2 linked regions of the Homo sapiens genome follow. The protein of the gene in region 1 interacts with the protein of each later gene in a biochemical or structural test. Each region holds a gene or a part of one and is shown in the gene's direction. Other genes may lie near its edges.

Region 1 (3,500 bases):
ATGTCCTACTAAAAACCTGCCTGTGACCTTTATCATTGCTAAAGTTTGAAATGTACTTTGTTACAGGAAAGACTACGGCTAGGGCCTATATTATCTTTTTCTCTTTTGTTCTGTGTAAGTAAGTATAGGGGCAGAGTAGTTAGCTTGAACTTAGTTCTTTCTTTGTTCTGGACTATTTGCTATCCTCTCACCAGTGACAATTAACCAGTATAGAAATATAGATGTTTCTACATTGTTCATATACTTGAACATATATTTCTTTATGTAGATACTCACACATAAACTAGTTATATATTTGTGGGTTATATATACTAGTCAATCTATCTATCTGTCTATCTATCTATCTATCTATCTATCTATCAGTTCTCCATGTTTGTCTATTTGGCGTTCCCATGAACTTCAGACCTTCGCCTGTGTTCTCTTTTCTCCATTTGGTTACGTATCATTGCCTACTATGTGTTGATCACTCTGATTCTCCATCTCTAGACTCATCCCTCAGAAACACGGAACTTACTACCTTTCCTAAATCCAGACATTAACATGCTCCCCAAGTCCTGAAATTTTGCTTTGTAATAATCTCTAATAACTTCTTGCTTTGACACCTCCATTGCCATCATCTTAATTCATGGCTTTATTATTTCTCACCTGTAAAATTGTAATAGTTTTTTTAATCAGTCTGAAGTCTCATCCTTTTTTTAATGTAATCTACAGCTTAAAAAGTAAAATAAAAAGTGAAGGGTTACTGATTTCTTCTCATTGCCTTTGGTATAAATTCTAATCTTTTTTGCCAGAGAAACTGGTTCCACTAATGATCTGGGGGCTAGGCCTGGAGCTGGGAAGGGATCTTTTTTCTTTTCTTTCTTTCTTCCTTTCTTTCTTTCTTTCTTTCTTTCTTTCTTTCTTTCTTTCTTTCTTTCTTTCTTTCTTTCTTTTTTCTTTCTTTTTCTTCTATGATTGATTAAAAGAAAACAAACAGGAGGTAGTTTTAACACCCACCTCTATACTTTCTCAAGGTGTTTAAGGTTCTGGGCAAATCCTACTTCTTCTATTATGTTCTCTTATGTCACTTTTGCCACAAAATATTTCCATTGAATTGCACACTTTTTATCACCTTTTCTTGGCATTTTTCAAGTCATTTCAATCTGCTCTTTTTTGTGATGATGATTGATGATGATGATGACATGTGAATTAGTGGATTTCTTGACATTGTAACCTACATGAAATCAGGTATAGGAGACACAAAAGGCATAAACTCATAGTTCCCATACCTAATTTTTCACCAGACACTGAATAAATCATAGATTAAAAAAATAAAACTGCATATTGTAGTGACAAAGGAAAGGAAAATTTTCAAAGAGGGAAGTCAAAAAGAGGGAGAATATGAGATAAAAAAATTAACCAGAGGCGAAGTGGGAGGATGAAGACAGCAGGACTATTTTGTCCAGATTAAATTAAGTTGATTTTGGATCTAGATGTTTACAGTCTTGCCTTTTTGTTTTTGTTTGTTTGTTTGTTTGTTTTTTCTTTGCTCCCTTTCTTACTCTCCTTATCTCACCTCTCGTCTGGAAAGAGCCTCCTGACTTCCTAAAAGTTCATAGTTTGAGAATGTTTTTCCTAAATTTTCTTTGATCTGCTCTTTGGACATTCTAGGTAATGTAATTTGGAGGGTCAATTTTATTTTTCAGATACACATACCCATAGGAGAAAAAGCAAGGAATGGGAGGGAAATACAAATGTAGCGGAGTGATAACACAAACAGATCAGGTCCAGTCATGGCAATTGCTGGTTTGAACACTGATGCTAGTGCTCTGGGATTGCTTGCAAGGGCAGATGGAATATGGTGCACCCTAGGTGTTGCATTATTTGCACGACAAAAGTTTGTAGAGAGCTGGGAATAATTTCTTTACAGACAGTGTGGTGATGAATGTCAATCTGAGTAGGTAAGGGGCAGAGATTTGTACTGAGGTTGATTCATTCTCTTGGTAAATACACAATGTTCACAAAGGCAAGGTTTCATCTTCAGACCATGTGTGTATATGTCACCTTGGTGCAGAGAGAGAAATTTTTCATCAGTGCTGACCTTTGATTTTTTTTTCTAGACATCTTATAGATTTATGTAGTTATTTACATGGGAAACAATTAGAATGGAAATTTAACATATCTTCAGTTTAAAATTAATTTCTGTCTAGTCTAAATATCTTTGTAAGTACTAGATACTCAATCCCATAGCAGTGGCCTTTTACCAAAGGCTTAGTGCTATGACTTTTGCATACATAAAGACCTCACTTTTTAAGATATGATACACCAGAAAAAAAATATGGCAAGACTTTAGCAATATGATTTGATGCCTATTTCTATATAATACCCAAATATACAGGAATAAAAATTATGGCAATCACTGGATTTTGTGTACCTGGCTCTAACCAATATTTATATTAGAAAATATCTAATTATTGTCTAAAATATTTAATCTTCATTCCTGTTTGTATGTCAGTGTGCTACTTCAATATCAGTCTGTTAAAAGAGTCTAGGAATGACTACTATAAGCAGAGAATTATATGTTCAGGAATCACAACAAAAAACAAGAACAAATAGAGAAACAAAAGCTTTCCTACTCTTTCATCTAGGACAAGAATAAATACACATAAAGTCAATATTAGTGAAGTAAACAAGCATCTTCTATATCCATTCATAGTACCTTCAATTGATTGATTTCTTAACAGACAATCAGCAAAATTATCAGTTTTTATTAGAGATTTTAGTAGAGACCGAGCTTAAACAAATATATTCTATGGTGCTTAACTCTATAGTATTTAAAGATTCAATATTTATTTCCTCTAAAAATGAGTCAAGTGTCTGAAAGGAAAAAGCCACCTAACTGAAACTTCAGTTTCTACTATACAGGGTATTTATTATAAAACTGTAATTACAATGCAATTATATTGAAGTATAAATGATCATCATTCATTTATTTAAGAATATAATCAAAATTTGCATACCTGGAAGAAAACCATCCACCCTCCAAAATAGGGATTTGCTAATGTAGGAGTAGAAGGCAAAAGTTGAGGGTAACTCAGGTAACACACTCATACGTATTAGGATATGAACAGCTGGTATAGCAAACTTGATAGAAATCACTGATAGACAAGAAGACATTCTCTGCATTTTAAATTAAAGTACAATTTGTCTGTGGTCATTCAAGAGATAGTTTAGAGAAACCTATACAAATAACAATGATGCTAAGAGACAATATCAAAATCACAATAAATATCATGGCAATACAGTGTGGCCACTATATTTTAAACACATCCACTTGATGAAAAATATAATAATTTACTGATAAAACATATTAAGCATAATAGAAAATGAGGCAGAAACCACTCCAAGCTGGGAAACATCATGACATCTGTAGTGATAAATATTTTGAAAATCTAACTCTATGAATCTTGTGATTTTTAGCTAAATCAATTTTCACCCTTGAGACCCAATTTCCTCATCTA
Region 2 (3,500 bases), about 160 Mb from region 1:
ATATCAGGCTGCCGGGGCCTCACCTTCTGCCTCCCAGACCCCTATGGCTGCTCTTGTGGATCTGGCTGGAGAGGAAGCCAGTGCCAAGAAGGTATGCCTAACCTACCCTCATGGTCCCTGACCAAGACAGCTGGCCAGGAGCTTGACCCGGACCCTCCACTCTGCCTCTGACTTACGCAGCAAGCCCTCCTGCTCACTTGACCAGTCCTTCTATCCTCAGCCTGTTGTATAACCTGTGCCCCATCTGCGCCCTCATCTGTGCCCTCATTGCCCCCTGTCCCATGCCCCTCTAATCATACCTCCTCTATTCCCAGCTTGTGCCCCTGGTCATTTTGGGGCTGATTGCCGACTCCAGTGCCAGTGTCAGAATGGTGGCACTTGTGACCGGTTCAGTGGTTGTGTCTGCCCCTCTGGGTGGCATGGAGTGCACTGTGAGAAGTCAGGTATAAGCACTATGACCTCTGAGAGCCCCCCAAGATAAGTCGGCCTTTACCAAACACATCTCCCCGGTGGAAGAGAGTAGTCCCTCCTTTCCCTACGAGGGTCCAAGTCCTGCCCTCAGGGAGCTTAGAGTCTGATGGACAGGGAGCTCTGGCAGGGAGTCAGTCTGGTAGGGAGTCAGTCCAGCAGGGAGCCAGTCCAGCAAGGAGCTCACTGCCAGCCAGCCATAGTGGAAAGGGCAGCAGCCCAGAGAATGTGGGAGCCCAGAGGATGCCCCTGGGCAGACTGAGCAGGTCAGAGAAGGGTCTGGAAGCAGGTGTGATCTGAGATTAGATATGAAGGACAAAAGAGAGATAACTGAGGAAAGAACAAGAGCAAAGACCCAGGGATTGGGGACTCAGGTTTGGGTGCCAGGACAGTGGAGTAGGGGACCCAGGGATTGGGGACTCAGGTTTGGGTGCCAGGACAGTGGAGTAGGGGACCCAGGGATTGGGGACTCAGGTTTGGGTGCCAGGACAGTGGGGTAGGGGACCCAGGGATTGGGGACTCAGGTTTGGGTACCAGGACAGTGGAGTGGGGGACTGGGGAAATGGTCAGAAGAGGTCAAATCGTGGGGCCTTTGAATGAAGGCCAAAGAGTTTGCACTTCATATGATGGGGCAAGAGGGAATTGTTAAAAAGGAACAAGGTAGTCAGATCCGTGTTGGAGAAAGGACCCCTAGCTGCTGGCCGGGGAGCGGGAGCAGGAGACCCTCGAGGACTCTGTACCTAGGGACCAGAAATGATGAGGCCTGAGCTAGTGTGCTGGCTGGGAGGATGGTGAGGGGTCTGCTGGCAGGTATTAGACGGTATCGGGAAGTGGGGAGGTGGTTAGGAAGTAGACTTTGCAGCTGATGGGATGTGGGGCTGGGACGCTGGAGGAGTCATGCGGGCCTTTGCTGGTTTTCAGGCTGGAGGGACTGGGTAGATACCTCCACTGAGAAACAGAACACGGATGAGGGGCGCTTTGGTGGTCACGTGTCTGCCCCTGTGGGAGCTCCAGGATGAGTGTCCTTTCTCCCCAGACCGGATCCCCCAGATCCTCAACATGGCCTCAGAACTGGAGTTCAACTTAGAGACGATGCCCCGGATCAACTGTGCAGCTGCAGGGAACCCCTTCCCCGTGCGGGGCAGCATAGAGCTACGCAAGCCAGACGGCACTGTGCTCCTGGTCAGCCCCCAATCACCCCAACCCACCAGCCCCTCAGGCCGCCTGCTTCACAGCTGATCCCTAAGACCCCCTAGTCCCTCAGAACTTTCTGCAGGGCCCACCCATTGGCCTGACCATTGCTCACATGAGGTCAGGCTGATTGGTGAGGGGGCTGCCACTGGGCCTCTGTCCTGCCATCAGTCCAGACGGACACCTGGGTGCCTGCCACAGAGGTGCCCGTTCCCTGTGACCTGTCCCCTTCCCCCATCTCTTTTAGTCCACCAAGGCCATTGTGGAGCCAGAGAAGACCACAGCTGAGTTCGAGGTGCCCCGCTTGGTTCTTGCGGACAGTGGGTTCTGGGAGTGCCGTGTGTCCACATCTGGCGGCCAAGACAGCCGGCGCTTCAAGGTCAATGTGAAAGGTCAGTGATGTCCTAGGTCCACAGGGAATGGACGGTGAGCAGAGTAGGCTCTAGATGATGCTGCTCAGGCTGGAGATACTAGCAGGAAGGACAAGGACATCTAAGGTCATAGCCTAGCACCAGACAAAAAGCGGGGTTGTGGTCAACCAGAGGTCCGGGCTGGGCAGTGTCAAGGCTGGAGTACAGCTTAGACCCATCTGGAAAGGACATCCCGTGCCCCAGAAACTGGGGACACTCTCCAGCCCCGCCCTTCCTCCTGCCCAGCCATGCTGTCCCCCACCAACCGTCACACACAGACAAGTATACCTTTAACTCTGCTCTGGGATGCTGCCTCCCATCTCTGAGTCACCCCACAGACACTCAGTGCTAGCCCAGGGGAGCATATGGGGCTATGGAGCTCAGAGGGTGACCAGCTTGGCTTCCTAGAAGTGGTGCATGCCTAGAAATCTTCCAGGTAAATAAGGAGGGACCTCCCAGTGCCCAAGATTACTCAGACCAGAGCACCCCCACCTGCTCTAAGGCCTCCTTCGCCTTCTCCAGCTTCTCCAGCACCCTAAGTCTTAACCATTCACACCCCTGCCACCCCCTGACCCTGCTGTCCCTCTGCTCCTGCCACCCCATGTAAGCCCCCTCTCTCACCTTCTGCTTTCTCGTTGCCACACTCTGCCTCCCAGGTCCTCGCCATCTCCCTATCCCGTGACTATGCATGACTCTCTGCCATCAAGCCTCACCTTCCGCCTTTCTCTTCTCACTGTGCCCAGGCTTAGGAGCCAGACAACCTGGGCTTGAATCCTCTCTCCACAAATTCCTTGCCCCATCACCTTAAGGAAACTACTTAACCTCTCTTACTTTGTTTCTCTCTTTGTGAAATGGGGATAGCTAGCACTTGATGGGGTTGTTACAAAGATTAAATTTGATGATGTATTTAAGCATTTAGCACAGTGCCCGATACAGGGTGTGTGCTCAATGTATGTCGATAATTATTGTTATTATTTAAAATGTCACCTAGTCCCTAGATTTTGATAGTTCTCTGGCAGCTCTCACATATGATCTGCAGCCAGGACCCCTCTTCTGACTCCAGATCATTTGGTGGGGACTCCATGAAGTGGGGCATCTACTCTGGAAGTCTGGTTTTGAAGTTGGTGTGGAAAGTAGCTGCTGTATGATTCGGAGGCCCATTTTATATCCAGCCACTTCCTGGACATCTAATCCCCTGCGTGAGCCAAAGGCACCAAGGGCTTCTCTGCACCCAAAATGGACCTTCATCTCCCCGCAAATCAGCACTGCCCTCCTGACATGCTCATTGCTGCCTGACACTCCCTCAGCTTACAGCGCGGCATCCTTTTCCTCCCTCGCTCCCTCCCTCTTTCCTTCCTTCCTTTCCTCTCAAAAAGCCAATCTGGTAAACATTTGTAAGAGTCAAGGGAACCTGTTAAAAGCACTAATGCA

Evidence for each region.
Region 2: of the proteins of PTPRC (region 1) and TIE1, one has a biochemical effect on the other in vitro, tested with the Homo sapiens proteins (one large-scale study listed by IntAct).

The regions. Positions count from the first base shown.
Region 1 is NC_000001.11:198,642,040-198,645,539, forward strand, and holds part of PTPRC (receptor-type tyrosine-protein phosphatase C isoform 1 precursor), read left to right. Parts: intron 1-3,500. UniProt on the Homo sapiens protein: Protein tyrosine-protein phosphatase required for T-cell activation through the antigen receptor. Acts as a positive regulator of T-cell coactivation upon binding to DPP4.
Region 2 is NC_000001.11:43,307,482-43,310,981, forward strand, and holds part of TIE1 (tyrosine-protein kinase receptor Tie-1 isoform 1 precursor), read left to right. Parts: coding exon 1-91; intron 92-314; coding exon 315-443; intron 444-1,504; coding exon 1,505-1,650; intron 1,651-1,906; coding exon 1,907-2,051; intron 2,052-3,500. UniProt on the Homo sapiens protein: Transmembrane tyrosine-protein kinase that may modulate TEK/TIE2 activity and contribute to the regulation of angiogenesis.